Linked DNA regions of Homo sapiens. The protein of the gene in region 1 interacts with the protein of each later gene in a pairwise test. Each region holds a gene or a part of one and is shown in the gene's direction. Other genes may lie near its edges.

Evidence for each region.
Region 2: the proteins of SDC4 (region 1) and MAL interact in binary tests that used the Homo sapiens proteins (3 or more experiments, as listed by UniProt).
Region 3: the proteins of SDC4 (region 1) and PMP22 interact in binary tests that used the Homo sapiens proteins (3 or more experiments, as listed by UniProt).
Region 4: the proteins of SDC4 (region 1) and SGTA interact in binary tests that used the Homo sapiens proteins (3 or more experiments, as listed by UniProt).

What each region holds. Positions count from the first base shown.
Region 1 is NC_000020.11:45,345,157-45,353,419, reverse strand, and holds the start of SDC4 (syndecan-4 precursor), read left to right. Parts: upstream 1-4,995; 5' UTR 4,996-5,035; coding exon 5,036-5,095; intron 5,096-8,263. UniProt on the Homo sapiens protein: Cell surface proteoglycan which regulates exosome biogenesis in concert with SDCBP and PDCD6IP.
Region 2 is NC_000002.12:95,021,351-95,028,865, forward strand, and holds the start of MAL (myelin and lymphocyte protein), read left to right. Parts: upstream 1-4,357; 5' UTR 4,358-4,442; coding exon 4,443-4,535; intron 4,536-4,989; exon of another isoform or gene 4,990-5,083; intron 5,084-5,208; exon of another isoform or gene 5,209-5,679; intron 5,680-7,515. UniProt on the Homo sapiens protein: May be involved in vesicular trafficking from the Golgi apparatus to the cell membrane. Plays a role in the maintenance of the myelin sheath, and in axon-glia and glia-glia interactions.
Region 3 is NC_000017.11:15,262,327-15,270,039, reverse strand, and holds the start of PMP22 (peripheral myelin protein 22), read left to right. Parts: upstream 1-4,713; 5' UTR 4,714-4,886; intron 4,887-7,487; exon of another isoform or gene 7,488-7,615; intron 7,616-7,713. UniProt on the Homo sapiens protein: Might be involved in growth regulation, and in myelinization in the peripheral nervous system.
Region 4 is NC_000019.10:2,779,929-2,788,110, reverse strand, and holds the start of SGTA (small glutamine-rich tetratricopeptide repeat-containing protein alpha), read left to right. Parts: upstream 1-4,837; 5' UTR 4,838-4,878; intron 4,879-5,363; exon of another isoform or gene 5,364-5,541; intron 5,542-8,182. Other genes in the region: THOP1 (thimet oligopeptidase), read right to left, coding at 2,433-2,448. UniProt on the Homo sapiens protein: Co-chaperone that binds misfolded and hydrophobic patches-containing client proteins in the cytosol. Mediates their targeting to the endoplasmic reticulum but also regulates their sorting to the proteasome when targeting fails.

The sequences.
Region 1 (8,263 bases):
CAAACATCCTCTTTTTGTGGATATAAAGAAAGAATCTGAAGTTTCTTGCCCCAAAATAATGTATGCAGAGACACATAACCTAGAGGAGTACTGACCATGCATGTGTCCTCTGCCCCCAGTCATGGAGCCCAGGTTAAAGACCCATACATCCACAAATAATTATATTCAAACATGTTGCATCCCTTTAGAGATTCTCAGAACTTGGGGAAGGGGAAATTATTTCCTTAATTCCAGGAGGTTAAGATAGTTTTATAGAAGAACTTCCATTAACTCTCTAAACGAGCTGTTTTCAGTTTTTGTTTTTGTTTTTTTGCTAGTGTACTCTGTAAATGATTATTTTAAGACTAGGTACTCCTTGACATAATTTTTAGTTGATAGCTTAACATTTTTCATCAAAAGTTTAAATAGTTGCAAAGGTTGTAATTTCTGGCATATTGTAAATTTATACACGTAAAAGTAAAACAATTACATCACTCTTTTAAATGTATCCAGTTAAATTAAATGCCCTAGCAATTCGATACCTACAATCATCCATTTAAAAAATACATGAACAAGCTCTTTTCTAAGAGTCAGACATTTTGCATCATTTCTTTTTCTATTTGAAGTCAAATTTCTACTCCATGTTCCACCACAAAATTTTATCATAATGTGTTTTTTTTTAATGCGTCAGAGGCTTACTGATGACTCTTTTAAAAAGTCCTGCAATAATTTAAACAGCTTCATTAAGGTACAACTGGCATAAAATAAGCTATACATATTTAAAGTATACAATTGACATAAATATATGCTTGCTGTGTTAGGCTGTTTGCGTTACTATAAATATATGAGATTGGGTAATTTATAAAGAAAAGAGGTTTAATTGGCTTACAGTTCTGCAGGCTATACAAGCATGGCTCCAGCATTTGCTTCTGGCGAGGGGCTCAGGAAACTTCCAATCATGGCGGAAGGTAATGGGGTAGCAGACATCTCACATGGCATCATCAGGACCAAGAGACAGGGAAGGTGGAGTTCCCAGACTCTTAAACAACCAGATCCAGCGTGAACTGAGAGTGAGAATTCATTTATCACCAAGTGGATAATGCTAAACTATTCATGAGGGATCTGCCCCAGGATCCAGTCACCTCCAGGCCCCACCTCCAACATTAGGAATCACATTTCAACATGAGATTTGGAGGGGACAAACATCCAAATCACATCACTCTCTAAACCAGTCCTACAAACTTTGATAAATAATTATTAAGTAGAAAAAGTAAAGTTGTTTTAGAAATACCTGTCTTAATTAGGTGGCTGTGGCAATTTTTCTCTCCAATTAGCTCACTAAAACCTCCATGAGATTGGGTATAGTCGCTCATGCCTGTAATACCAGCACTTTGGAAGGCCGAGGCACGCGGGTCACTTGAAGTCAGGAGTTTGAGACAAGCCTGGCCAATGTGGCGAAACCCCATCTCTACTAAAAATACTAAAATTAGCTAGGCATGGTGATGTGCACCTGTAATTCCAGCTACTTGGGAGGCTGAGGCACAAGAATCACTTGAACTCAGGAGGCTAAGGTTGCAGTGAGCAGAGGTTGTGCCACTGCACTCCAGCCTGGGTGATGGAGTGAGACTTTGTCAAAAACAAACAAACAAACAAACACCTCAACGAATATTGCTAGAATGAAACAGGTTTTAGCAATAATTTTATTCCTATTTTTCATTTTTTATAGCTGTCAAACCATGGTGTGGTAAAGCCATCTTGTAGTGGTTCATGAAAGTCAATTTTTAGAAATTTTGTGGCTGGGTGCCATGTAATCCCAGCACTTTGGGAAGCTAAGTTGAGAGGACTGCTTGAGCCCAGGCCTTCAAACCCAGCCTGGGCAACATAGTAAGACTGTGTCTCTACCAAAATAATAATAATAATAATAATAATAACAATAACAATAATAATAATAATTAGCTGTGCGTGGTGGCGTATGTCTAGTCCCAACTACTCAGGAGGCTGAGGTGGGAGGATCTCGTGAGCCTGGGAGGTTGAGGCTGCAATCAGCCATAATTTTGCCACTGCACTCCAGCCTGGGCTACAGAGAGAGATCCTGTTTTTTTTTTGTTGCTTTTTTTTTTATGTCATTAGCCAGTTGTTAAACATAACTATTACTAAAAATTAATTTATATGAACATACAATTATATTAAAAAAAAAGGAGGCCGGGTACAGTTGCTCACACCTGTAATCCCAGCACTTTGAGAGGCTGAGGCGGGTAGATCACGAGGTCAGGATATCGAGACCATCCTGGCCAACATGGTGAAACCCTGTCTCTACTGAAAATACAAAAATTAGCCGGGCATGGTGGTGTGTGCCTGTAGTCCCAGCTACTCTGGAGGCTGAGGAGAATCGCTTGAACTTGGGAGGCGGAGGTTGCAGTGAGCCGAGATTGCGTCACCGCACTCCAGCCTGGGTGACAAATTGAGACTCCGTCTCAAAAAAACAAAAACAAAAACAAAACCATAAAGGAAATAAATACTCAAAACTCATCACTTACTAATTATCTCACTACACTTTACTGTTATCCATGCTTTTGAGATTATTTGCACCTATTGTATCTGTGTGGTAGAAATATATCTTCCCAGCTCCATGTTCAGTGACATCTCATTGGTAGCTTGAAATCAGCCATGCTGGTAGTATTTACACTACAGAAATTGGCAAATTAGCACTCGCCACTTCCCCTAGCCAATTGTCAAACATTTACTGGCACACCACTGGCTGTAAGTGCTGAGAAACTTATAAAAGTTGGTAGGAACAGAAGAACTCTTGTTACAACAGTGTGACAATAGATAACTAAAATCACAGTTACCTATTCTATATTTAATGATCTATCTACTGACAACTAGATTAGGCCCCCCTGCAATTTTGTGGAAAGCAAAGATTGCAAACCATTTAACTTGCAAAAGGATTTCTTATTCTGGCATGAGATTTCTTCATTTTCTCAGTTTTGTTCCAAATCCTAGGGAAGCATGTTAAAAACCACTGAAAGTCATTGCTTACCTTTAAATCTGTGGAAACCCCGTGGTCAGCATTTGAAGTTTGCTTTACTGCCAAGGTTCTCTGCCACAAGAGACTTTTATTCTTTGATAATAATTAAGAGGTGGAAAAAGGGAAGTCACTACCAATTCTCCACTCCACAAAGTATATGAATTCATAATATGCCAACAGTGGCCAAAATGTCCTACTTCTAAGGCTATGTTACACCCTTAGAAAGATTTATACATAAGTCAGGGAGAGACAGGGTTAGGCTTCTTTTGTACTTCGATCATCGTAGAATGCCCACCTTCACACCCTGCAATAATTCCAACAGTACGTGTGCTTGGGGACCCAGAGAATTTTACAGTCTCCATATAGCACCCCCCTCCACTTCTTCCCTCAACCTGCTCCCACCAATGCACTGTTAGGAGGATGAAGGGTAAGGAGGACACACAACTTTCTCTTATAAAGGGTGGAAGCTTACCCTAAGAATGGAAATAAACTTGCAGACCAGTTCTCAGAGAGATCAAACTTTTGAAAAAGTTCAAAATCTGGTAGATGAAGCCCTTAGAACAGACGTCAGCCACTCTGAGACCAGCGTCAGAGTGGTCTCAGAGTGGCTGAGGCCCACCGCCTATTTTTGTTCAGCCCACTGCTAAGAATGGTTTTTGCATTTTTATTTTTTATTTTTTTGAGACGGAGTTTTGCTCTGTTGCCCAGGCTGGAGTGCAGTGGGGAGATCTCAGTTCACTGCAACCTCCGCCCCTCGGGTTCAAACGATTCTCCTGCCTCAGCCTCCAGAGCAGTTGGGATTACAGGCGCAGGCAACCATGCCTGGATAATTTTTGTATTTTGTAGAGACGGGGTTTCAGCATGTTGGCCAGGCTGGTCTCAAACTCCTGAGCTCAAGTGATCCGCCGCCTCAGCCTCCCAAAGTGCTGGGATTACAGGCATGACTCACTGCATCCGGCCTGCATTTTTATTATAAAATGTCATTTATTTATTTATTTATTTATTTATTTATTTATTTATTTATTTTTGAGACAGGGTCTCACTCGGTCACCCAGGCTGGAGTGCAGTGAGCGATCATGGCTCACTGCAACTTTCACCTCTCTGGCTCAAGCAGTCCTCCCACCTCAGCCTCCAGAGTAGCTGGGCCACAGGGGTGCACCACAATGCCTGGTTAATTTCTTTAAAAACTTTTTGTAGAGATGGGGGTCTCATTATGGTTGCCCAGGCTGGTCTCCAATTCCTGGGCTCAAGGGATCCTCCTATTCCTCGGCCTCCCAAAGTGCTGGGATTACAGGCGTGAGCCATAGAGCCCAGCCGATTTTTGCATGTTTAAATGGTTGGGAATAAAGTCAAAAGAATAATAATATTTCGTGACACATGAAAATTATATTAAATTCAAATGTCGGTGTCTATAAATAATGTTTTATTAGGACCTAGCTGCCCTCATTCCTTTAGTATTTATGGCTGCTTTTGAGCTACGACGCTCGAGTTTGAATAGTTGCCACAGGGATCGTATGGCCCGCAAAACCTAAAATATTTAGCCCTTTACAGAATAGTTTGCTGTCCCCTGTCTTAACACGGTTCACATCCCATTTGGGAAGTTCTGTGTCTTCAGAGGGGAGCACACCCGGTATGAAGGCTGGTCTAAACTCAACACCCTAGGGAAGTCCTTCCCGTCCCTGGGCCTTAGTTTCCCCAACTATAAAATGGGGTTAGCCGCAGTGATCTCTGGGGACCTGCCTGGCAGTGGGTCAAATAAATAAAGGGAGTTGGAGCTCCCGGAGGGTAGGACTAGGGGTTGAGTAGGAGCCGGCGGGCTCGGGCAGGGCGGGTCCCTTGGGGTTTCCAACTCCGCGGGCGGGCGCAGTGCCCCGCAGGCCTCGCTTCCACTGGGGAATTCCGGGCGGGGTGCGGGCGGCGGGGCGGGGGCGGGCCGGGGCGGGGCCGGTAGGCCGCCTATAAGATGGGTGGCGCGCCCGCCCGGGGCCACTCGCCGCAGCCTGCGCGCCTTCTCCAGTCCGCGGTGCCATGGCCCCCGCCCGTCTGTTCGCGCTGCTGCTGTTCTTCGTAGGCGGAGTCGCCGAGTCGGTGGGTGCTTGGAGGTTCCCGGGCTGGGGGCGAAGCGGGGGCGCAGGCCGGTGCCTCCTTTGTTCGTCGGAGCGTGGGATGGGGGGGGGCAGATCGGGGGTACGCTACCCCCAACCGGACACCGAGGCCCGGGAAACTTTGTTGGAAACTTTGCTCCGGGGTCACGGGCCAGCCTCCGGGATGGCTTCACGCGCCGTGCGCCCCTCGCCTGTTGCTCTTCCCGCCTCCCCGGGCCTCAGCCCCGCCGCGGGCTACGGGCTCGTTAGTGACTAAGCCGGTGTCAACTCTTCAACTCCCACACCCTCGTCCCTTCCCTGGTGACCCTGGGGCAGGCTTGGAGCGCTGAATCCCCTCCTCGCTCTCGGGGCGCCCAGAGCAGACAGCTTTAGGATCCGAGATGGCCCTGGGGGTCGGGGGGCTGCGTGTACTCGGAAGGGGGAGGGTTTTAGGGTTGTGCGAGGCCCTCTTTCACACACCAAGGAGAACTGAGCCCTAACCTCAGTTCTGGCCCCAGCTCTGTCATTGACTTGTGACTTAGGGCAAAGTCCTGCCCTTCTGAATCTCTTCCCAATACTGCACCAAGGGTCTGAGGGAATGGGGCAAGAGGGGACACTGCGTTAGGGTTTCTAGAAAGTTGGGGACTCTGCTCTTTTCGAGGACAGAGGAGAGGAATGGTTTAGACTCAACACTTAGCCAGGAGCTGAGCCTCTGCTTTCTGCAAGAAGTGTGTTCATTTTTTCTCAATTGCAGATAAGAAAATTGAAGCATCCACCTTGAGTGAGGTGAAGGGGGTAGGGGGGAGAGAAGGCCTCAATCAGCCCAGGGAAACCTTTCCTTCTCACTGTCCACTGGCCTCCGTCATAGCTGTCCCTGGGCCAGCAGAAGCTCTATCCATGCCCGCAGCCGGCTTAGGAGGAGGGGGGCAATCTCATCTGGGAAGTTGGGGGGCATGGGAATTACTGGTGAAGGCAATCTGTCCCCCACAGCCTGAGCTTTGTGCCCCCTTTGTGCCCTTTAGCCCCAGTTTTCAGAGCGAGTGAGTCCTTGCAGTTTAACCATTAATGTTAATTTCTTTGAAAGCCTTGGGGCTCCTGTTCCTCTGAATTTACTTAGCGGAAGGTTGATTCTGCCTGCAGGCTCTTCTTGAGGAATGAATGAGACCCTAGGCAATACTTCCAGCACAATTCCAGGCATGCCATGATGATTGCAAACGTGGAGCGCCTTTGTCGGGGGGCCAGACATTGCTCTAATAACTTTCTAATGGGTATATCCAGGAGCTTAATTCCAACAACAATCTTACTGTGTACTGTTCTTAAACTGGTCCTGAGGCTAGAGAGGTTAAGTAACTTGCCCAGGGTCACACAGTTAATACACAATAAATGGGTGAGTCAGATTGAAATTTAGGCAGCCAGGCTTTCAAGTTTCTGCTTTAGCTTAACTTCTACTCTTTGTGCTACTCCAGGTGTCCCATCGTTGGTAACTAAAGACGGGTTTAGAATAGGTTGAGATTTTAGGCTGGAAGGCAAAGGAATTCTGAGGTGGAAGGAAACAAGGCCAGAGTGAGGTGATGACTTAACCTAAACCAAAGGCTACCTTGCCTAAAATGTTAGTGGCTGAGGACCCAAGCCTTCTGCCTCTAGCACAGTGCTCTAAACTAGGCCCTGAAGGATGTGTCGGGTCAAGCAACTGGGGAAGCATCCGAAGGGATACCACCTAGGCAGTACAGGGAAAAAGAGGAAAGGACCCAGGAGGTTGCTGAGGTCACCGTGTGCCCAGTCACATGCCAGTTTCCTCCCAGGGGCTGCTGAGCCTTCAGGTGCTTCAGGGTGCTGAGCAGTCAGCTGTGTCCTGGGGGCATTCTGAAGGATGTAGTTTGGGGGAAGGGGACTGTGTCAGTCCTGCCTGGGTGACCCATCAGCTGCAGGAGACATCAGCCCTGGGCAGCTGCTTCCTGAGATAGGTGTCAAGTCTCATCCTGACCTCAGCTCTCCCCTTCCTGGCTAATGTCACAGACCTCCTGCCTGTAACTGGGGCACAGGGCTTCCCCTTTGGCCTGTCCCCTCCCTCTTTTCTAGATTGTGGTTGGAAAAATCAGACATAGTCACGGTTGGCTCGGACTGAAGAGATGATCCAGCGTGTCCTTTTCTTTTTGCAGGTAGAGAAAAGTGAGGCCCAGGGAGAAGGACTTTGCTAATAGCAGTTAGGAGTGATAGAGTACTTTTTATATGACAGATCTGGTGCATTTTGTCCTCACAAAAAGACCTGTCACATGGGGATTCTATTATGCCCACTTCCCAAATGTGAGAGGTAAAATGGTACTACTTTGGGTTAGTAGAGGGCATCCAGGACCCCAGGATCTCTGACTAGTAGCCCTCCCATTGTGGGTGGTGTTCCCCCGACTGTTCCATCATTCCCCTTACCACCCCCATATTTTGGAAGGGAACCCAGGCTCAGTACCCAGCTGTCCTCTCCTCTGTTTGGCTGGGCTTGCTATACTAAACCAGTTCTTCCTGTCCAGCTGGGAGCATTCCCTGATCTGCCTTCCTGCCACTCCCTCTCAGGCCAATTAAAGGCAGCCTTGTTTTGGGAGTCCCCTCCACCCAAAGGTGTTCCTACCCAGGGGCACAGCCTACTGACTTGGCCCCGGGCCCAGGCGGTTGTGGGGAAGTGTCCCCCACCTATCACCTATCAAGTGTACTTTAGCTTAAGGACATTTCTGGTCTTCTACAGCGTCCTCTTCTTGATTACATGGGAGTAGGGGTGGGGGCGGAAGCCTAGGGGCTTCTAGGACCCTTGAGTGAACAGTGAGAGCTCTTGGGACTTCTTGAGCCCAGGGAGTTATCAAACACCCACGAAAATATTTGGGCCATGATTTGGAGGGTTCCATGAGGTTGGGGGGAGGCCTCTTTCCCCGCTGGGCTGACATCCCCCACCTTAAAATGAAAGGTTTGAACAGGGTAGCCTCCAGAGTCCTTTCCATCTCTCAATTTGATTAATAACTTAAGTACCTACTATTCAAAAGAGGTCTCTCTCTTGAAGGAATTAACTTGAGGGAATTAACATACTCCACCAAATGCTGAATCCCTCCCTCTCTCCCCCCGCACACTGAGGGCAGGAACTCTGCTCTATTTGTTTTTGTGAAATACCTGTCCCCTAGTTTGTACTCAG
Region 2 (7,515 bases), on another chromosome or scaffold:
ATCTGCAGAGCGGGCACAGGGGTACCACCCAAGAGGTTCTCAGAAACAGGGCCCCACTGTGCAGCCTGCCCCCACCCCAACTTTGTTCTAGAACAGTTGGTCCATGTGCCACCTACTATGATCTGAATGTCTGTGTCCCCTCCCCAAATTCCTATGTTGAAATCCTAACCCCCAAGATGATGGTATCAGGGCTGAGGCCTTTGGGAGGTGATTAGGTCATAAAGATGGAGGCCTCATGAATGGTATCAGTGTCCTTAGAAAAGTGGCCCCAGAGAGACCCTTCACCTCCTCCACCCTGTGAAGACACAGCAAGAAGGTGCCGTCTGTGAACCAGAAAGTGGACCCTCAACAGACACGGAATCTGCAACACCTTGATCTAGGATTTCCAGCCTCCAGAACAGTGAGAAACAGGCTCCTGCTGTTGACAAGCCTCCTGGTCTACCGTAGTTTATTACAGCAGCCCGAACAGACTAAGACACCGTCTCTGAGCACTTTGCCTGCAGTCATGGACAAAGCATGCCCAGCACAGGCCCTGACCAGGTGCCTCTCAGCCTCACGTGCTGTCCCTCTTGGAAAGAGCTCTCCTAGGGAGCAGGGACTCTGTCTTTCCTACTCACACACCCTCTACCCTCCATCCCCATCCACAAGTCACCCAGACAATGCCAGCCTGTTTTGTGCTCAGAATATCATGAGGACTTTGTCGGACAGTGGCAGAGTGCCACATCTCCCTGGTTCTAGAAAACATGATCCTACAAGAGGGTGGGGAAAAGAGCACATGCGGATCATTGTCCCTGGAGGCAGTGGGCACACGGAGCCCATGGCCCATCAAAGGACAGTGCCCTGGTGAGCAGCCACCACTTCAGATTTTCCAGTTTGTGGATTTTGTGCAGTAGACACAGAGCCTGCCTGCTGGAATCAAGAGGCCTAGTCACCAGCCATGTGGCCTGCGCACATTACCTCCCATTCCTAGCCTGTATGTTGGGTGACACCCACCAGCAAGCCTCTGTGGGATTAAATGAAGCCATGCAGGCAAAGTGCCTGTGGCAGTGCTGGGACTCAGCAAGCCCTCAGTAACAGGTTCCCCTCCTGCGCTGACGCCATGGCAGCTGTGGCTGCCATTCCCCCATCCGCCAGCAGGTGCCCTCACTGCTTCATGCCTTCTATGGAACCCAGGGCTGTGGGTGACTGTGTCTGTGAGAAAAATAAAATCCCTAGGGGGAAGTGCGCGTTCAGGGTAGCTCTCTGAACTCATGTCGGCACCCGGCCTCGCCATCCATAAATGGGGATGATGACCCCCACTTCCTTGTGTTCCCAGAGGTGAAGGTCCCAAGCCCTGTCCACCAGGGCAGGTGCCTGGGGCCACACCTGAGATGACCATGAAGACTGGATTTGGGAGGCTGCCGATGTCTGCATGGAGCTGGCATTTGACTGGCAATTGCCCATCTTGAGCAGGGTTTTCATCGAGGGCTCGGAGCTTTAGAGGTGCAGCGTCACTCAGGTTCAAGGTGCTCAGCAACTCTGTGCCCTTGGGCAGCTACTTAACACTTCTGAGCCTCTGTTAGCTCATCAGTAAAATGGGAGTCATCTTACCTACCTCAAAAACCAATGCACCTACTGTTACGGATGGGCAACTCCTGCCCATTAATCTTTCCCTGAACACGTCCCTCTCCCCACAATCTCCTCCCTCCCCCTGAACACACACAAACTGGAGGTGGTAACCTCTTCCTTCCCCAGGCTGGCTCTGCAATGGCAACTTTCCAATTCCTACTTTGTGGAAACCCACCCAAGGCCACGTTATTAATATTTGACAGAAGCCCCAGACCCACCCTCTTATTCACACCCACTGGGAAGACCAAGGATACTCACTGAGTTATTATTGGCTGAAATTATTTTTTCATATCCTGCTGGAAACCAAAATATGGTCCTGGGCTTCTGATAAGTATCAACCACCTCATTCACCAGCAGGTGGCCCAGAGCACCTGCAGAAGCTGTGCTGGGGAATGAAGACAGGCCCATCTTTACTTACCAATGCCTCTCTCTTACCAATGTCTCTCTCTCTCACCAATGCCTCTGTTTTACAAATGCCTCCTCTCACCAACGCCTCTCTCTCTCTCTCTCACACACCAGTGCCTCTCTCTCACCAGTGCCTCTCTCTGTCTCACCAACGCCTCTCTCTCACCAATGCCTCTCTATTTACCAATGTCTCTCTATTACCAGTGCCTCACTCCTCACCAGTGCTTCTTACATCCAAACAGGGCACTTCCATGTCCTCCTCTGGTGGTCAAGCACAGACAAAGCTGGAGTCATCCACCATTGGCTAAGGTTTAATGAGCACTCACCAGAGGCTGGGCTCTGCTTGGGTGCTGAGCATATGCTAGGGTGGGGAAGGAGAGGGGCAGATGGGGGTGGCTGGAGGATGCCCTGCCGAGGGTAGAGTCTGGTCAGGAAGATGAACGTCGAGCGGAGAACTCCAGGTGGGAGGAGGGGGTCACAGAGATAGGGACAAACCCCCTTGACCCTGGCCGGGCTGCCTTCCTCATCCTCTGAAGCCTCTTTCAGAGATTGCTGCCCCTCTGCCTTATCAAAGGAGGGCTGGGACTGCTGAGCTCCACTGAGTTGCCCCTGGGAGCGAGCTTTCCCCAAAGGCTCAGGCCCAAGTAGGAATGAGTTAGCAACAAAGGCTTGAAATAAGTAGGAAATCACCAAACCAAACCACAAACAAAAGCCCTCCAGGCCAGGTAAGGACATTATTAGGAGTTGATAGGATCTTCTTGTTCTTAATTAGTATGTGCTGATAGGAAATCTCCAAGCAGCTTTCGCTGGACTGCCTGAGGGTCATCTCACCTCTCTTCAGGCTGCGGCTTCCTGTGGCCACCTTGCTTTAAGGCTTGTTCCCAGGACGGTCTCCTGGGGAGGAAGAAGATGTCCTCTCAGAGGCCAGCAGGTCCAACTAACGAGCTATGAGATGCCCAAGGTGGATGAGGACCTGGGCTCCTAAAGTCCCACAGCCCATTGTGTCCAGAGAGATGCTGCCCTGGGGACCCGACACAATGGCACCTTGGTTGCAGCCGTCCGGGCTGGCAGCTCACAGAGGCACAGTGGGGTTTTCTCATTTCAAATGCCTGGCCCCTTTCCAGAGGCACTTAGAATGGCCAGCTGATGGGCGTGCTACTTTTGCTTTGGAAAATGCGTCCACGAATATACTTCTCTCCCTAGGGACTGGGAAGGAGGAAGAATTGTGCAGCAGGGAGAGGTGAAGGCCCCACTGGAGAGAAGGGGAGCCCCTTGTCCTGCCTGCAGCAGCTGCCAATGGAAAGAAAGAAGAGTTGGGAGTCTAAGCTGGAGGTTGCGGGGCCAATTCCCTTTTGGCAGGCGAGAATCCGGACTCGGGCGGATTTCAGGCTTCAGTGTTTGTAGGAGGAAACACAGCAATCACACTATTAATAGTAAATTAAAATAAATGGGCAACTGCTGCATGGTAATACTTTTTTTTTTAAGGCAAAAAATAAAAAATAGTGAAACAGAGAAACAAAACATGAAACACCGGCAGTCAACAGGCAGGCAAAGAACCTGGGGGTGGGGGTAGCAGCGGTCCCACCCTCAAAAGGCCCGGGCTGCCCAGACCAAGAGAAAGCGATGAATCTCTTCTGGTAACGTCCCTTCCTGTCGCATGGATTCAAGGCCGACCTGCCCCAGCACCACCACCAGCAGCCTTCTGCTGGGGCCGGCACAGCTGGGAGCAACCTCCTACTCTCAGGCAGACGCGCAGCACCAAGCAGAGAGGCCCGGTGCAGGATCCCAGCGCCGAACCAGCGCCGGCTCAGTGGACGCGGAAGGGGCCGGCGGCCGCGGCCGGTCCCATCCCCCACTGCAGACCCCCAGCCTGTGGCGGTGGTCCAGTTCCGCCAGGAAACCGCCGCCTGGAGCTGTGGGTCGCGCACATTAACGCATCCAGCGGAAAAATGAAGGAGACCCAAATTCAAAGTTAAAGTAATGGTGACCCGAGAGGTGCCTTGATGAGAAGGTTTGGGGTCCCGGTTACTGATGGTTATCATTCTTACGAGATGCTGGTCACCTACGAAGGGAGAAAGGCACGAGGAGCGCCTGACCAAAGTGGTTTTGCCCTGCTTCCCGCAAGAGGTGGCACCCACGGCTGGAACGCAGGAGTCAGACCCACAGTCCCCAGCTCTGGACGCCCGCAGCGGGGCCTCGAAGAGGTTCAGGGCGGTGCCCGCGGCGCTCGGGCCGGGTCTCCCGGGGCGTGGGGCGGGGGGCGGGGTTGGGCGGCGGCCGGGGCTCCTCCCTCTTCTGCCCCGGGCTCCCCTGCTCTTAACCCGCGCGCGGGGGCGCCCAGGCCACTGGGCTCCGCGGAGCCAGCGAGAGGTCTGCGCGGAGTCTGAGCGGCGCTCGTCCCGTCCCAAGGCCGACGCCAGCACGCCGTCATGGCCCCCGCAGCGGCGACGGGGGGCAGCACCCTGCCCAGTGGCTTCTCGGTCTTCACCACCTTGCCCGACTTGCTCTTCATCTTTGAGTTTGTGAGTGGCTCCTGGCCGGGGAAGGGACGGGGTGGGCTGAGCCGTGCGCTCTCTCGGGCGCCCAGCACAGCTGTCGGACGGGATCCGCTAGCTGCGCAGGTTCTGGGAGCATCGGGGCAGCAGGCGCAGGGCGGGGACTAAGCCAGGGAAGTCCCCTCCCACCTCCGGTCCTTTGTGCCCTTCTAGACCAACAGAATGAGGGGAACAGTCTACAGGACTATGGAGGAAAAACTGGGTTCCCAACTGGGGTCAGATGTAGGCAGCGGGGCAGGGGGGGACGGCTCTTGGTTCGCTGGTCCCAAAGCTGCGCGCGGGGCCCACTTGACGCGCGCAGCGCCACCGAAGCTCCCGCCGCGCTTTGCGCGGTTGGGTAGAAGTGCGCAGCTTTTACAAGGGAGAAGGTTTCGTTAAAAAAGAAAAAAAAATCAGCAAGAGAAACATTAGTATTACCAACCGAGATTTGGAGATGAGAGGGAGCTGAATCCGGTTTATTTTCTTCTGGCCTTTTAAAGTTTCTGGCGAGGGAACGTATTTGCGACCAATTCGATCTGGAAATGAGGCCATCGTTTGCTTGGCCGCAGTCCTTCTGCCCCGTGTGCGGGGTGGGGGTGGAGGAGATGGGGGGTGGGGGGTGGGGGGTGGCGGCGAGAGCGATCCGCGCGCCTCGACTGACCTTGGGCAGGCCCGGGGCCTCTGCACCTGCGGTCGGTCCCGCCTTGCACGCACGGTCTCTGCCTGAGGCTGCAGGAAAGCGCTTCCTACTGAGAACTCCTGATAAGCGCTCACGGTGTCGCGAAGCCGAAGTGACCTCCCTCAGCCTCAACTCCCCGGGGGCCGCTGGCCTTCACCTGGGAGGGGTGTGCCCTGTATGTCCTGTGGGTGCGGTCCGTCACCGCCTGAGGGACACCTTTTCCGGCACCCCACCCTCAGAAGTGTCAGCGTGGAGAGTTGGGCGGGAAAGAAAATGTCGGAGCCTGGCTGTTTAAAAATTGGACCCCAGGTTGTTATTGCCTGATTGGAGGGGGAGGGTGTGAATACCAAAGGGAGCAGGTCAGTTCATCCAAAGAGGGCTTGCGGGCAGAGGCTAAGAGGGCTGCGGCGGCCTGGGAGCAGGGCTACCATTGAACTTAGGGTGAAAGTCCAGTCGAACCCAAACCTGGGTGGAACCGGTGACTTGAAATCCTAGGGATAGGCGGAATCAAAGCAGTTACATTTAGAAGAAACCCTGGACGCCAATGAACGCAGCCCCACCGTTTACAGAGAGCCAGCCCCCCGCTGGCCTCCTTTTAGAAGTTCAGCATACAAGAAGGAGTGCCCCTGAGAGTAGGAACAGTCCAGTTAGACGGGGCGATCTGATCTGCGGGAAAGGTGACCGGAGACTCCCACCCAACCCGCCAATGCTGCAGAAATTACAGGGGCGTGGGAAACCTTGGAACCATCTACTACTGGCAGCTTGCTCTTCCAGCGTGGCTTTGTGGCCTGCCGGTAGCGGGGCTTCCAGAAGAAACAACTCCCCCTCGCCCAGAACGCTTCTCTCAGCTGACTTAGAAAGTCACTTCTCCACCTCACCCCTGTTCCCCACCTCCCTTCCTCACTTCCCAGGAGACCCGCAATGCATAGTCATCTCCAGGCATCTTCCACATGCTCTAGATTAGGGGTGGGCTCGCAGGTGCCTGGGAGAGAAGAGGAGAAAGCTGACCCCAAGCCTCTCAGTTCTCCTCTGCATGGACTGTAAATACGAAGCTGTATATATTTGATGTGTGGAAGGAGTGGAGAATTAAAGGGCCTGAGAAGGCGCTGGCCACCCCGGGAGAGTTTTTGTTTTTGTTTTTGTTTTTGCTTTTGAGACGGAGTCTCGCTCTGTCGCCCAGGCTGGAGTGCAGTGGCGCGATCTTGGCTCACTGCAGGCTCCGCCTCCCGGGTTCACGCCATTCTCCTGCCTCAGCCTCCCAGCTACTCGAGAGGTTTTTTTAATTATGGAATATTACAACTCGACAACAAAAAGACAACCCAATTAGAAAATGGACAATGGACTTGAACAGAGGTTTCTACAAAGAAGATACACAAATGGCCAATATGCACATAAAAAGATGCTTAACATCATCAGGCATTAGGAAAACTAAATTGAAACCACAATGAGGCCAGTTGCGGTGACTCACGCCTGTAATCCCAGCACTTTGGGAGGCTGAGGTGGGTGGATCACCTGAGGTCAGGAGTTCGAGACCAGACTGACCAACATGGTGAAACCCCATCTCTACTAAAAATACAAAAAAAAAAAAAAAAAAAAAAAACCCGGCTTGGGTGGCTCATGCCTGTAGTCCCAGCTACTCAGCAGGCTAAGGCATGAGCATCGCTTGAACCTGGGAGGCAGAGGTTGCAGTAAGCCGAGATCATGCCGCTGCACTCCAGCCTGGGCAACAGAGTGAGACTCGGTCTCAAAAAAATAAATTAATAAGTAAATAAATTAAATAAATAGAAAGAAAGAAATCACAATGAGATACCACTTCACACCCATTAGGATGGCTACTATCCAAAAAACGGAAAACATCAAGTATTGGATGTGGAGAAATTGGAACCCTTGGTATGCCACTGGCGGGAATGTGAAATGGTTCAGCCACTGTGGAAAACAGTTTGGTGTTCCCTCAAAAAATTACCCTCTGACCCAGCAATTCCACTCCTGGGTATATAACCAAAGGATTCCAAGCAGGGACTTTAGTATTGGCACATGCATGTTCATAGCAGCAGTCTTCACAATAACACACAGCCCAGTGGCCATCAGCAATGAACTGAATAACAAAGTGCGACATATCCAAACAATGGATACTACCTGACCATAGAAAGGAATGAAGTACTGATACGTGCTACAAAGTTGATAAACCTTGAAAACTCTATGCTAAGCAAAAGACACAAGGCACAAAATGTCATATAGTGTATGATTCCGTTTATATAAAATACTGGAATAGATAAATCCATAGAGACA
Region 3 (7,713 bases), on another chromosome or scaffold:
ATATTTCCTAGTCTAACAATGAAGAGTAAACATTCTTGAAGTTTTGCCCGGCTTTCCCTTGAACGTCTCGAAAGGATTTGACCTTTGTCTGTGAACTTCCCTGGATTAGCTGAGGTTTCACACTTGATAAGTGGTGCAGGAACTCAGAGATGAAGAAAACATCTGGTCTCCAGTTCATTTTAAGTACAACTGGTGCTCCCTAGGCTCAGAAGTGCACACAGAATGATGCATTGTGGGGACTATGATGCGTCGTGGGGCTTGTCCTCCCAGGGTCCCATCCAGGACCGTTTGCGTTCACCTCGTCCTTGCTGGAGATTAATGCTCCATTTCTTGGTGTGGCTTCGACTGCCTGAAGCAGGCATTTCCTTGGGTTACATGGGCCTTCCTGTGCACCTCTCTCAATAAGGACAATCTCTCACATCAAGCCAAGGCTGCTTTTCTCGACATTTCTATGCCTGGTCTGCAGTGGCCTAGAAAATCCCTGCATTCCTCCCCATTCCGTCCATTCCCGTGTGGCAAGATTGCTCTGCTTCCCCATTTTATTTGAACCTATGCCCTACTGGAGCAGAAGCATTTTCACTTAGGAGTAAACAGTCTTAGAAAAGTTTTAGAGTTTGCAATCCCAAGTACACATCCATTTCTGACTCTTGCTTAAATTGCTCCCCAATCCTCTAGCTGCTAACTCATGAGATGTCAGAGAAAAGACTGCTTTCCCCCCTCCACTTGCATCTGTGGAATCTGGCTTTCCTAAGCAACAATGCATTTGTGAACAGAGAATCCTTTGTACTTGGTCTGGTCCCACTGCCACAACATAATAATTCTGTGACTTCTCTCTCCCACAGGTGAAGGAGTTAATATACAATTTACTCCAAGATACCTTTCTATATTTTAAAGATGTCATTTAGGGAACAGTCCTGTGCCAATGTGAGTTTTTTTTTGTGTGTGTCTTTATGTTGCTTTCTGACTGCGTCTGTGTTGTTCATAAAGAATATCTTCTAGGGATTGGGACCTGTCATAATTTCAAACTTGCTTATTTGTAGAAGATTCTGTCACAGAAGTCAAACTGGCTCCTTCTGTTCCTTTTCTTCTCCCTTCTCCTTCTCTTCCCTCCCCTCTTCCTATCTATATCTCCCTCCCTCCCTCTCTCCTTCCATCTTTCCTTCCTTCCTTCCTTCCTCCCTCCCTCCCTCTTTCCTTCCTTCCTTCCTTCCTTCCCCTCTGCCTTCTTTCCCTGCCTTGCTTGTTCTTTCAACAAGCTGCTCTCACTCGACATCAAAACAGTCTAGCTGAGTCTAGATGAGGCAGGACTGACTTTTGAGGACCCTTCCAGGCCAGCTGTGTCCAGGGCTGGCCAAGAACTCCCACACAGGCTGCTGGCTATGAGGACACAGGAAAGACTTCATTCTTAGTGTAAACACTTTTCAGATATTGACTGAGCACCTGGTGGGATAGATGCTGCAACAACAACTTCATCACCTGGACAAACACCAAATTCAGACTTGCCTCTGGTTTTCTCTCTGGGGAGCCTGCACAGTGAAAAAATTACAGGTTTGGGAGTCAGAGGAATGGACTTTTTTAAGCCCCAGCCCTGGCATTCACTAGCTAGTCCCTGGAGGAAACACTGTAAATTTTCCAAGCCTCAGTTTCTTCACATAGAAAATGATTATAATGATTCCTCTTAAATAAGATACTGCCATATGTTAACAGCATTTTATTAGCTATAAAGTGCGGAAGGGTTTCCTCCCTCTTCAAGAGTCTGCTGGGATTCCACTGTCATGGACAACATTTCATTCTTATGAAATTAAAATCTCACCTACAGGCAGGATTCTGCCAGTGCTTATGCTATACAGACATATGGAATGCAAATGTCCTCGGAGGAGCACACAGCCTTGTTGGCAGGATGAGACAGGATTCTTGAAAGCTGTACTAAATGTGACTGGTGCTGAAAAAAAAATGGATGTCTTAGGATATGTTCTTGCTTTTTAATGGAAAAAGAAACGTGAATGCATAAATATGTATAATGTGAGAATATCTTTCATACAAATAGGACATTAAATGATAGTGTCTATGGAAGCATGATGAGAAGATATGCTAGGAACGTGCTGGGCACAATTAGGGGCACGGTAGAATGTGAGATAGTCCAGGCTGTGAGTACGGGATCTGTAGCCAGAATGCCTGGTTGGAATCCAGCCTCTGTCATTTCTTTGCAGTGTGTCTTGAGAAAGTGACTGAACATCTCGCTGTGCCTCAGTTTCTCCCTCTTCTAAAAGAGGATGATGGGGTGCCTATTTCATACGGTTGTGAGGATTAAGTGATTTGATGCATATAAAATATTCAAGATGGTGCCTGGCATATGCTAAACACGAAGTAAATATAACCTATTATCATCATTATCAAGGACTTGCGGATAACTGATGCTACTGAGCCGATGGAGCGTGGTGTAGCAGAACAGCTCAGGTGCTAGAAATAGCCAGTCTCATTGACTCAACTGTGTTTCCTCAGAGAATCCCGATTCTCATTTTTCCTATCTGTAAATGGAAGGGAGGATAGCAAATAATAATAAATGTTATTTGGTGACTATTCTATGTGTTTATTTTGCAAGAGGCTCAGTGGGATATAGCCTACAGCTTTGCAGAGACATTGCTCAACACAGATGCATGGGATAGGGGTCCCATTTGGCTGAGAAAAGGTTATTGGAAATGGGAGACGAGGAAGGAGTTTTCCTCACCTGACTCTGGGAAGGGAAGAGAGTCTGGCCCAGATGGGTAAAGACAAGTGTGTTGGCATCTGGTAGACAGGGCCAGTGGCACACAACAGTGAACAGCTCTACTGCTGACAGCCAACAGGGACTTCGGGGTTTGGCTGCTGGAGATGGAGGACCTGGGCAAAAGAGACGTGAGGCCAAGAGAGCAGGTCTCAGAATGTGGAGCTCATGGAAGGAGAGAGGGAGGGCTAATCAGACTGCTCCTATCTGGCCAGAAGCCATGCCCCACACTCACCAGGCCCTACCCCTTTTCCTCTGAATCTTTAGCTCTTAGATCAGAAATAATCTTACGTGTCTTCAGGCTTGATCCTGGCCTGACGGACAGCAGCCTCTGTCGTGTAGCCTTTGGAGCTGATCATGGCAGTACCCAGGAAAAGACTGTCTGGAGAGGCTGCAAAAACCATGCTCACTGTTCCCAGTCCCCGTACAGACCATGTCAGAGGAGGACTGAGGGAGGCTCCTCTCTCTCTCTCTCTGTCACACACACGCACACGCGCACACACACACACACAGATACACGCGCACACACACACACCGTTTTGCCTGGCAGAACAGACTTATAACTTGCATAATACTGCAGCAGCCCACACTGTACCTCATCTCCATTTGGGTTCCACAACAGAAGGGAGCTGGAAGGAAATCAGCGACAATCTAACTCCACATGACAACCTGGCTGGACAACGAAACATCCAGCGGGGAGAAAGACACTGGAAATTACCCATACCTGAGCCCCATCCCAAAACACCTGAGTCAGCTTCTCTGACCATGGCCCAGGCTAGGTCATTTGCAAAGCTCTTGAGTGATTCTAAAGAACCACTGCTGTGAAAAATAAAAATGATTTCAGCAAAGAGAGAAAGGTGAAACTATTTTATTGGCACTGGCTGTGATGCTGGCTGTGAGCAGATGCTGGCTGTGGGCAGAACAGGGGAGAGGGCCATTGAGAGGCCCTTGTGACTGGAGAGTCCAATCAAACGTAAAGTGTGTGACAGGGAGGGACTCCTCCAAATTCTGCAGGTCTCTCCAGACTGGGGATCCCTAACACAAGAGGAAGTCTTATGCCCCAAGTGCCAGAATTCCAGGAAACTCATGCAATGAAACCAGTCCTCTTGTGTCAGAGTTTGCAGCTAGAAGCGGTTCAAGGGATGGAGGACTCTCTGGGAGCTGGAGTGGTACGCTGCAAAGAACCTAAATATGCCATAACTTCCTTTACTTCCCTCTCCAAGAATTTCCAATTGCTCTTCCAGCCTATTCTGCCTGACAGGTTAGAAAGTTTTCAATAGTTTTCAATAGAGGTTCGTTTACTTGCATTGAATTATCTCATGAAGGTCAGCTTGATTCGGGCACATTAAAGACAGAGTCGGAAGAACACATTTCCCTAAGTTTTATTCTAATGTACAACACATGTGATCATTTGCGATGGGGTCTAGGCAGACAAGGCAGGTAACAGGGAGTCCTTCCAACCAGGGGTTGGAACAAAGGAGGCTTGATTTGGTGACTCTTGAGACATTTGGCTCACTGCTGTGATGCTGTGAGAGATTAGCTGTGCAATGTTTGGGCTCCTTAAAAGGAAGTTTATTTAAAATAAAACTTACCTGCACGTATGTAACACTGTAGACACAGATCCTTCCCACAGTATATTTAATCTCTGCAGAATTCACTGGGAGGGGAGGGGAGCCAGTGGGACCTCTTGGCTATTACACAGGTTGGCACTTCCAGAGAGAACAGTCTTGGCATCACAGGCTTCAGGCATACTCAAAGCTCTTCTCCCTTCTGATTCCAGTTTCTCCATGCCCTGCAGGGCCTCTTGGGATTATTGTATTCTGGAAAGCAAACAAAGTTGGACACTGTCTCTTTAAATAATAGAGGCTGAGAACCTCTCAGGCCACCATGACATATCCCAGCATTGGACCAGCCCCTGAATAAACTGGAAAGACGCCTGGTCTGGCTTCAGTTACAGGGAGCACCACCAGGGAACATCTCGGGGAGCCTGGTTGGAAGCTGCAGGCTTAGTCTGTCGGCTGCGGGTCTCTGACTGCCCTGTGGGGAGGGTCTTGCCTTAACATCCCTTGCATTTGGCTGCAAAGAAATCTGCTTGGAAGAAGGGGTTACGCTGTTTGGCCGGGTGAGTTTTATTGGCAAACTGTGCCTCTGGGTGATGTGTGCCTATGCTTTACAAGAATTGCCTAATTTCCCACCCCCTGCAAGCCGCAAATGAAAAGGATTGCAGGAGAGATGGTGCATTTGTGTTGGAATTGACTGGAGATTCAGAGGGCTTTTTATATCCTTGGTTAAAAGGTGGATATATACTCTGGCTGGGGAGGTGGGGGGCCATCTGAGAGCATCTAGAAACCCTAATGCATCCAGATTGAAAGGAAGAAAGGAATCTAGATGCTTTTTCCCCCATGGAAAATAGCTGTGCACACACAGCTGGCAGGTGGCCTTGGTAAGCAGGTTAGGGAGAAGCTGCCACCTGTGGCAGAGCCTTGGCCAGCCGGGCTCTGGGTGTGGCAAGCCTGGTCAGCAGGCACTGAGTAGCACTTCCTCTGCCACCATTGAGAACCAGGCAGGAGGCCAGAGGCAGTGAGGGACAGATGGGTTGGGTTTACCTGTCTGGCAGTATATGGTGTGGCTGTGACCTGGGTGGTTATTGATTAAACTATTGGGTTCAAAAGAAAGGAAGAAGCGAGCTGTAGCACCCAATATATGCACTTTTCTGTATGTGTATTAGACTTTATTAAAAAGTTTATTTGAAAATCACAAAGGAAGGGAAAGAAAACCCTGAGTTAGATATGCTCATATTTCTAAAGTGCTTACTTAGAACAGTCCTGAGTATGTTGTGATCACATAAGTGTTGGTTAAATAAATAAATGTCCAAATGGCATAAAACAAAGTAATAATTTCTAGAGCAAATCTAACTTATAAAATGACCTGTGGAGGAAAGAAAACACTGCCATGTCTTTAGACTTTTTTTTCTACTTGCATATGCACTTTCATTTATAAATCTTTATCTATCTATCTATATCTATCTATCTATCTATCTATCTACCTACCTACCTACCTACCTATCAGAGTTACAAGCTACTTTAGTGCAGAGGTGGTCAGGTCTTCCCTGAAAGGTTGATGTGAGAGTTAAATGTGATATAATAATAGTGGTGGCAATTTGGGCACTGGGCCCTTATTATGTTGCAGACACGATGTTAACTGCTTTGTACATATTGTCTCCTTCAATCACCACCATAAACCTTTAAAGCAGGCATTACTATTTCCTTTTGCACCTGAGAAAACTGAAGCTCAGTGAACTTGAGAAATTGCCCAAATTCACAACAAAAGTAAGCAGGGTGATTAGGTTTGTTGGAGCCCAGAGCCAGAGTGCCTAACCACTGCACCATACTGCCTCTCACAGACCATGCATATAAAGTCCAGGCAAAGTGCTTGGCATATAACGGGCACTGTAAATGCAGTGTTTACAAGTACACTTCATTTTAATCTGATAACACGATAGTTTTAAAAAGATCATTGTTTGAAGATCTTTTTCAAATTTATTTTTACTTACCGTAAGAATATACAATTAGCTAAAATAGCAGCTCCTTTCAAATCGTAAAATAATATAGAATTATTTGAATCATTGAGAGTGATGAGCTTCTATGACACAGTACACTAGAGGTAGGGAAGTGTGTGTGTGTGTGTGTGTGCGCGCGCGTGCGTGAACTGCTGCATTTTCAGGCAGAAACCTTTAACATCCACATTCCTGCTCCCTGTCCCGTGCCTCAAGGCTGGCCTGCGCACGGGAGTCTCAGTTGGGCGCGCCTCTGCCAAGCCGAGACTGAAGGGGGCTAGCCTCTCTCCCTGTAACGCTGGGCGGGCCACGTTAGGAGGCTATGAATCAGCTGATTTCCTTGGCTGCTCCAACCCCACCTCAAATGGCCACCTCGCACCCGCCCGCCAAACCCCATGGCCAGGACTCCAGCCAAGGCTGACAGCCAAGCCCGACTGCTGCAGGAACACTTTGCCTAGAGCTTATTCGGTGGTAGTCTGGTTTTGCCTAGGCTAGGAGGAGCCCAATCCCAGACCATGCTATCCAGTAGTCGGCCGGACTTTTCTTCCCCTAATTCGCACCCAAGAGGAGCCCGCTAGATCAATCCCCGCCAATCCTAGGAAGCTGGCATGCTTCGTAGGTGCAGACAGTAATAGCGGGGACCGGCGCGGGGCAGGTGTGTCCGGCTAAGACGCCAGGACAGGGCAGGGGCTCCAGGACCCGAGAGGAGAGGGACTTCTTCCAGCGCTCAAGCGCCCGCTGCCCTCTATTAGTGGGAAAGGAATCCAGCCTCAGCCCCGCGCGGGCGCGGTCGGCGTCGGCGGGCCCAGAAGCCCAGCCCTGGGCATCCGCTGAGCTACATTTGGCTGGGTCTTCCCAGAGTGGGCTGAGGAGCCAGTTTCTCGGTCAACACTAGGTCTCCACGGGGCCAGGGGAGAAGGGAGGTGGGAGGTGAGAAAGCTCAGCCGCCTCTGGTTTCGAGTAAAAGTCGCCGCGGTTTTGCAGGGACCGACTTTTTCTTGAGGCGCATTTAAGGCCAAGTGACTGTCTCCTGCCCTCCCTCTCTCCTGCCCCCTCTCCTCCCTGAGTCCCGCCCTCCCGCACACGCTGACCCAGGGACACACCCTACTGCAGCGACGCAAACAGGGCGTTGTTCCCGTTAAAGGGGAACGCCAGGAGCCTCCCACTGCCCCCTTGCTTCGCGCGCGCGCAGCCCCGCAGCGCAGCTTTGGCGGCGCCAGCAGCGGAGCCAACGCACCCGAGTTTGTGTTTGAGGCCACCCTGAGGATCGGGACAGCTGTTCCTTTGGGCTGTAAGTGATTTGGTGGGGAGAGTGAAGGAGATGGAGGAGAAATGTGGGCATCTTCCAGTGAGGGTGCCAGAAAGCGCAGCGCAGGCGCGGGGCTTTGGCCAG
Region 4 (8,182 bases), on another chromosome or scaffold:
TTTTCAAGAGGTAGCTGTTATTACAGACCATGCTCTCCTGTCCAAAAAGTCTTGGGGCCGGGGACATTTTAACATTCAGAATTTCCCCCCATTGTAGAACAGTATTAATAGAGTCCAAGTGCCATGTATTCCAAATCACTAGGGAGGCTGAGGCAGCACTCCGAAATCAAATTACTCTTTCTGCAGTGAGATGCAGGAATACGCACCAGGGTGTCTCTCTGTCTGCACTGTGGCCATTGGGGCCGGATCGTTTTCTGGGGTGGAGCTGTCCTGGGCACTGCAGGGTGCTGAGCAGCGTCCCCGGCCTCCATCCATTCCATACCAGGAGCGCCCCCCAACTGTGACAACCACAAATGTCCCCAGACACCGTCCAGTGTCCCCAGAGGTAGCACAATCACCCCAGCTGAGAATCAATGATATTCGCTAAGTGGGAAAAAGAAAGGCTCTCAGTCGGTCAGTTGAGGTCATTTTCTGGCCAAATGACTTTGCTGTAAACTTAAGGCAAACCTTTCAGTTTACAGAGTATTTAGGATTTTAGAACTGCAAAAAAGGGACTGTGGATCTACATTAAACCGTGGGGTAAAGAAGAGCTTCAGGGGCTCAGAAAGGATGGAGATGGATGGGAACTGGAACTGTCAGAAAATTCTCCTGCAGGAGTTAGGATTTGAAAAACTTGTGGACGTCAGTTCATCCTGTAAATATTTACTGATTGTGCCAAGGATCCAGTAGCAAACAAGGCAGACAACATTCCTTCCTTCCCAAGGCCTGAATATCCCTGACTATCATTATTACAATTATCACCCTCATCGCAATGGGCTGGACAAAGAGCTGGGGGAGTGTGGCTGGGCAAGAGAAAAGCCAAGGATCAGGCAAGGAGTTGCTTCAACAACCTGAGTGACCTTCTAAAACCCAGGCCGGGCACGGTGGCTCATGCCTGTAATCCCAGCACTTTCGGAGGTCGAAGCAGACGGATCACTTGAGGTCAGAAGTTCGAGACCACCCTGGCCAAGATGGTGAAACCCCATCTCTACTAATAATACAAAAATTAGCCAGGTGTGACGGGCGTGGTGACTCACGCCTGTAATCCCAGCACTTTGGGAGGCCGAGGCGGGTGGATCACGAGGTCAGGAGATGGAGATCATCCTGGCTAGCACCGTCTCTACTAAAAATACAAAAAAAATTAGCTGGGCGTGGTGGCAGGCGCCTGTAGTCCCAGCTACTCAGGAGGCTGAGGCAGGAGAATGGCGTGAACCTGGGAGGCGGAGCTTGCAGTGAGCCGAGATCGCGCCACTGCACTCCAGCCTGGGTGACGGACCAAGACTCTATCTCCAAAAAAAAAAAAAAATTAGCCAGGTGTGGTGGTGGGCGCCTGAAATCCCAGCTGCTTGGGAGGCTGAAGCAGCATAGCTTGAACCCGGGAGGCGGAGGTTGCGGTGAGCCTGTGTGAGCAGAGATTGCACCACTACACCCCAGCCTGGGAGACACAGACTGTCTCAAAAAATAAACCAACAAATAAATAAATAAACAGTACACAGGTCACATCGCCCCTTTGCCTCTAAATTAAAAGGGTCTTGGCTGGGTACAGTGGCTCATGTCTGTAATCCCAGCACTTTGGGAGGCCGAGGCAGGTGGATTGCTTGAACCCAGGACTTCAAGACCAGCCTGGGCAACATGGCGAAACCTCGTTTCTACAAAAAATTAGCCAAGTGTGGTGGTGCAGGCCTGTAGTCCCAGTTACTCAGGTGGCTGAGGCGGGAGGATTGACTGAGTCCAAGAGTTCGAGGCTGCAGGGAGTCGTGATCGCACCACTGCACTCCCGCTTGGGAGACAAAGTAAATAAATAACAAAATTAAAAGGTCCCCTCGTTACGTTCCAGCCAAACTGACTTTCTGCTCTCCAAACACGTTCCCTCCTCCCGGGACGCCTCCTTCCCCGGTCTTGGCAGGACACTTGCTTCTCCCAATCAAGCAAGTCGACGCTCACCTCTTCAGAAAAGCCCCCCAGGAACCACCCTCTCTCTAAAAACGTGTCCCTGGGACTGCCCCGTTCGTGTTTATCTGCACCAGAGCACCGATCCCTCCCTATCTTCGATCCTCTCTTATTTAATTTTTGAATGTCTGTCTGTGGCTCTAGAATTCCAGGAAAACGGGACTGGAGTCGTTAAATCACGGCCTCCCCAGGGTCCGCCACGGGGCCCGACCCATCCGGAAGGGAAGCGCCATCAACTTTGCAGAATGAATGAAGCGCTGGAAAAGCTGGTTCATTCATTCGGCAAACGAGAGAGCAGGGTCGTCCACCTCCCCCGCTGCCCCTCCAGCCCGGCCGAGGGTGGCTCGGGGGTCGCTTCGCTCCAGCCTTAGGCCCAAGTCGCGACCCCGGGAGGAGCGAGGGTGCAGGGGACGCCCGGGTCCGGCGAGCGGGGTAGTCGGTACCTGCGGGGGGCTTCATGGCGGGTGGGTCTGCGCCTGCGGCTCCCTCCCTCCTTCCACCTGCTACGCGTCCAGCCACCTCGGCCACTGAGGCCGCCTGCCTCGGCCCAACCGCCGCCACCGCCGCCACGGCCGCCTGAGGACCAAGGGGCCCGCCGCCCGCGCTCCCGGGGCATGCTGGGGCGGCGCGCGCACAGGGAGGGCAGGACGCACGCGCCCCTGAGCCCCGCCCACAGCTAAAGGAGGAGGGCCGGGAGTGCGCTGGAGCCCTCTGCGCACTCGCCGTAACCCTCCCGGTCCGTTATTGGTCTCGGCGGTGCGTGGGCGGAGCCTCTTGCTCTACCATTCCAGAGCCGCTGGGGTGGCTAGGACGGACGGTTTCCTTGGAAACCGCGCACGCCGCTGACGCCTCTGAGCCTCTGCGCGGCTCATTGCGCTGAGACTTCGCTTGGGCTTCAGGCTACCGCGTTAATGTGTACTTGCCTCGCTTCTTATAGCTGTGTGTTGGGCCAGTGTTATTATTGATCGCTTACTGTATATCCCAGGCCCACTTTCCAGCATCTGAATCCGACGAATCAATTAAATTAACCAGAAGTTTTGGTGCTTTGGTTGTTTTTGAGACGGAGTCTCGCTCTGTCGCCCAGGCTGGAGTGCAGTAGCAGCAATCTCGGCTCACTGCAACCTCCGCCTCCCTGGTTCAAGTAATTTTCCTGCCTCAGCCTTTCCAGGAGCTGGGACTACAGGCGCCAGCCCCCACCCCGGCTAATTTTTGTATTTTTAGTAAAGAGGGGGTTTCACCATGTTGGCCAGGATGGTCTTGATCTCTTGACCTCGTGATCCGCCCGCCTCGGCCTCCCAAAGTGCTGGGATTACAGGTGTGAGCCACCGCGCCGGGCCAAGTTTTTTTTTTTTTTTTTTTTTTTGTCAGAAACAAAAGCAAGTAAACGGATTCATGTCAAATAACAGGTGTTGTGGAACAGTGCAGTAGCCTGACCTACATGCAGTGTTGTGGGTTAAAACAAAAAACATCTTGAACCATCTGTCTTGAACTGTTAGGGCACCCAGAAAAAACAATGTACTACAATTAAACTGGCAAAAACCAAAACAACCGACCTCCTTTCTTCCCTTTTTTTGTTTTTGTTTTGTTTTCTTTTGCTTTGGAGGGGCTGGAGGGAGTCTCGCTCAGTCGCCCAGGCTGGAGTGCAATGGCGCGATCTCGGCTCGCTGCAACCTCTGCCTCTCGGGTTCAAGCGATTCTCCTGTCTCAGCGTCCCGAGTAGCTGGGACTACAAATGCCCGCACCACGCCCGGCTAATTTTTGCATTTTTAGTAGATACAGGGTTTCACCGTGTTGGCCAGGCTGGTCTCGAACTCCTGACATCAAGTGATCTGCCCCCTGGCCTCCCAAAGTGCTGGGATTACAGGCGTGAGCCACCACGGCCGGCCTCACCTCCTTTATTTCTGCAAAAGAAATTAAAATAATCCACGCCATTAATCGTGCATGTATTTTGAGTAGGACGAAAATGAATTGGGAGAACATTTCTGGCAACTGTAACTTAGATGGTGATCAGTTTTCTGTCGTCCTTGGAAATGTCTCATCACATGTCTTGAGCAACACCAAGATTAATTTTACATCGGCGTTCATTTTCGCTGTTCCCTGTGCCTGGGGTCCGTTTGGACTTTCCTATCCTTGAAATCCAAATGTAAAGGATGATCTTTCCTACCCATCCCATGCGACTTAGCTCCCAGTGACAATCACACTACCTTCATTTTTTTTTTCTTAGTGTTTGCTGTGAAATTTGTTTCTCTATTTATGTACTAGTTTATTAGTTTATAGTCCGTCTACCCCAATGCAAAATAATGAGAGTAGACACTTTGCTGGTTTTTATGGCTGCTTTGCAATAAATATTGAATGAATATTAGGCACCTGCTGTCTACAAATGGCTCTATACTCACAAACGTCTCACACTGCATGAAAGAATGCATTTGTGGGTGAGTAGATGGGTGGGTGAATAAATGAACAAAGATAGTAAGCGGGTAACACTGACTCCCATTCATTGCGCAGCTGTGACGCTCTGGAGTCCAGGTGTCCAAACGCGGCTGCACCACGTGGCCGGCCCAGCACCACGTGGTCAGCTCGGCGACCGGCTGGAGTCAGCCACTGTTCCACCGTGCACCGCTTCATTCCCGCTCTAGAGGGCAAACCAGACCCGATTTCCGGCCTCCATTAGGTCGCAGAGGTCAGTTGCCCTAACAACCAGCTGGTTCCCGCCTCTACGTTGCGTCACTTCCTTCCACGCCCGCCTCCATCATTAACGCGCCTGTGCAGAAGGGAAGCAACTCCGGGCGCCTTTCTTTTGCGCAGGCGTCGCGCCCTGGGGCCGGGGCCGGGCGGCACCGCGGTGCGCAAGCGCAACCGTCGGTGGGTCGGGGATCGGTCGCCTGAGAGGTGAGTGAGGGGCACTGCGCTGAGCCTGGTGGGTCTGGGGTCTGCGGCTCGGGGCCCACGGGGCCCCAAAGCTCGTAAGAGTTTGGGGATCGTGAGGCCAGGGTCACCGCGACCCGCGGGGTCCTGTGAGTAGGCGGTGCGGAGGGGAAACTGAGGCCGGGCGCCATCGGGCAGGCCCTTCGAGCCCTGATCTCCCTTCCCCAGGCCCCAGGTCCTGGAAATGCTGGTCCGCGGCCTGGTGGCGAGGACGGCGGGAGGGGAAGGCGCCCCGCATGTAGTGAGCGCTCGCTGGGTGTTCGCTGCCGTTCCGCTCTTATTAACCGCCTGGAAACGTCGTCCCTGTGACTCAGGGACCCCCGTTTGTGGGGACTGAAGTCGGAACTCTGGTTCCAGCGCCGCCAGTCCCTACCTGGGTGACCTTGCCCAGCCTCTTGGCTTCTCGGAGCCTCAGTTTTCCCCTCTGTAAAACGGGCGTTGTTCAAAAGTCCCTGCCTAGGAGAAGGAGAGCCGCAGGGTCCAGCGGAATCTGAGAACTCCAAAGAATTAGCAGGCGTTCGTCTTATATCATGTTTAGAGTCTTCTTCTGCATATCGTGCTAGAGGTGGGGGAAATCTGGGATTCAGGACCGTCCACCACCACCTCCCACCCGCTGTGTAAACCTGGGTGAGTCGCCTTCCCTCTCTGAGCAAACTGTTCCTTCTTTCGCAAACGAGTTGTAAAAGCAGATGCCTCGGAGGGTCATTATGAGGATAAACCCACATTCAATTATTTGATCAGGTGCCTGGAACTTGATAAGAGAGAGCTGGCTTGAGAATAGCTGTTTTTGTTATTAGGTGCCAGAAAATTGCAGTGTAGTGTGCCCTTCAGAGGTTGAATGATTGTCCCATTTTCTTTTGTTTCTGTCTCTGATTATTCCTTTTGTCTGCCTTTTCCCTCCCTTGACCAGTGGTTCTCAACCAGGAACAATTCTGTGCCCCAGGGATTCTTGGTGACATTTGTGCTTGTCATGATTTGGGGGACCCCCTGGTTTGGAGTTGGTGGAGGCCAGGGTTGCTGCTCGGCACCCTGCAGTACCCAGGACGGCCTCACCCCAGAAAATGATCCAGCTTTAAATGTCAATAATGCTTTAAAAACCCTACCATACGGGCTGATGACCTGAGGTCAGGAGTTCAAGACCAGCCTAGCCAACGTGGTGAAACCCCGTCTCTACTGAAAATATGAAAATTAGCTGGGCATGGTGGTGTGCACCTGTAATCCCAGCTACTCAGGAGGCTGAGGCAGGAGAATCCCTTGAACCCAGGAGGCAGAGGTTGCAGTGACCCAACATCATGCCACTGCACTCCAGCCTGGGCGACAGAGCGAGACCCTGTCAAAAATAAAAAAAAAAAATCTACCCTAGATCAGTGATTCTTCACCAGCATGGGCAGCTGGGACTGTGTGGGCCCGGGAAATCGTGTACAAAGTTTTGTGTGTGCACCCAATTTCGTGCAGAGAGAAATGGGTACTTTGGAGTTTAGCTTCTCAAGTCAGACTGCCTGGGTTCAGAACTCCTCATTTTCATCCTCGGAGCTGGGTGGTCTCGGGTGGTCCCCATCTTTCCAAGCCTCAGTTTTTCTTCTGTGGAATGGGGATTATAATAGTAACCACCTCAGGTGTGTGAGGATTAAACCAGGCAAGGTATCAGCAAACTGACCAGAAGGCCAAATCCACCTCTGGCCTGTTTTTGTGAATGAAGGTTTGTAGGAACACAGCCACACTCCTTGGTTTATGCGTTACCTGTAGTTGATTTCGAGCTAAGAAGGCACAGTTGAACAGTTGCCATAGGGAACTTAACGCCTGCAGAGCTGAAGACAATCTGGCCCTTTTCAGAAAAACCTTTGCTGACCCCTAAAATAAGCTATCGCATGTACAGCACTTAACTGGGTGCCTGGAAAGCTGTAAGCACGCCAAGGATTTGAGCTGAGGTTTATAATTAAATCTTCCTAGAAGGGTGAATGATTCCAAATGCGGGTGAGCTCTGCCCCAGATTGGAGGATCCTTGAGAGCTGTCGTCTTACTCAATTCTACATTTTTTCTTTTTTATGCCAAGACCCAACAGTGGCTCTGGTAGGAAGTGCTCAGTACAGGCTGAAGGAACAAAGGGGTGGTTTGAGATAGGGTCTTGCTCTGTCGCCCAGGCTGGAGTGCAGTGGCACAATCTCTGCTCACTGCAGCCTCGACCTCCCAGGCTCAGGCCCTCCCACCTCAGCCTCCTGAGTAGCTGGGACTACAGGTATGCACTACTACACCCAGCTAATTTTTGTATTTTGTTTTAGAGATGGGGTTTCACTGTGTTGCCCAGGCTGGTCTCAAACTCCTGGGTTCAAGTGATCCTCCACCTTGGCCTCCAGAGTTCTGTGATTACAGGCGTGCCCCACTGCACCTGGCCCGTTTTCTCTTTTACTGAGGTGGAAACAGAGACCCAGAGAGAAATGGCCTCCCCAAGGAACGTGACCATGTGGCTGTGAATTTTTCAACAATCGCAGGCTTTCCTGAGTCCATAGGGTTTAGACGCTGCCAGATGCTGGCGTTCAAAGGGAAGATGGGTCTGTCAAGAGATAGAAAGCCTTGTAAGAGATGCTGGGCCAGAGATAGGAGTTTGCAGGAATACTAGATTCTCTCCTGGCGGAGTTGGGCAGGGGAGGTGAGCACTTGAGTTTGAGTGGCATGTACAGGGTTTGGTGTAGGCCCCACAGATGACCCCCAGCTGGTGAGAGGCCTCCTATGCACACTCCTGGGGTTGCAAGGAGCAGTTGAGAGCTTTTATGTGTGCAGCGATCTCCTGGTGGCATTTTAGAAGGAAGTAGGCTTCGATGTGGGGAGTGGGCAGGAGACTGAGCTAGAACTCGGGTATCCTAAGAGGGAGTGAGGAGCAGGGCACCCGGCTCTCCTGCCCTGCTGTTGGTGAGAAGCACCGTGGATTTGGGATGGAGTTGGGCAGAGTGTTCACAGAAGGTAGTGGGTAAGAGCGGGCCCTTCCTACTGGGGTGTGAGGAGGTAAGACGACCTCAGTTTACGAGGATGTTCTATTTTTTTCCATTGAATGATCCCTTCTGGGCAGGGAAATAAGGAAGAGAGGTGGTTGTGAGTTTTTTGTTTGTTTTTAGAGACAGGGTCTCACTTTGTCACCCAGGCTGGAGTGCAGGGCCCAATCACAGCTCACTGCAGCCTCCAACTCCTGGGCTTAAACAATCCTCTCGCCTCAGCCTCCCAAGTAGCTGGGACTACTAGTGTGTGCCGCCACATCAGGCTAATTCTATTTTTT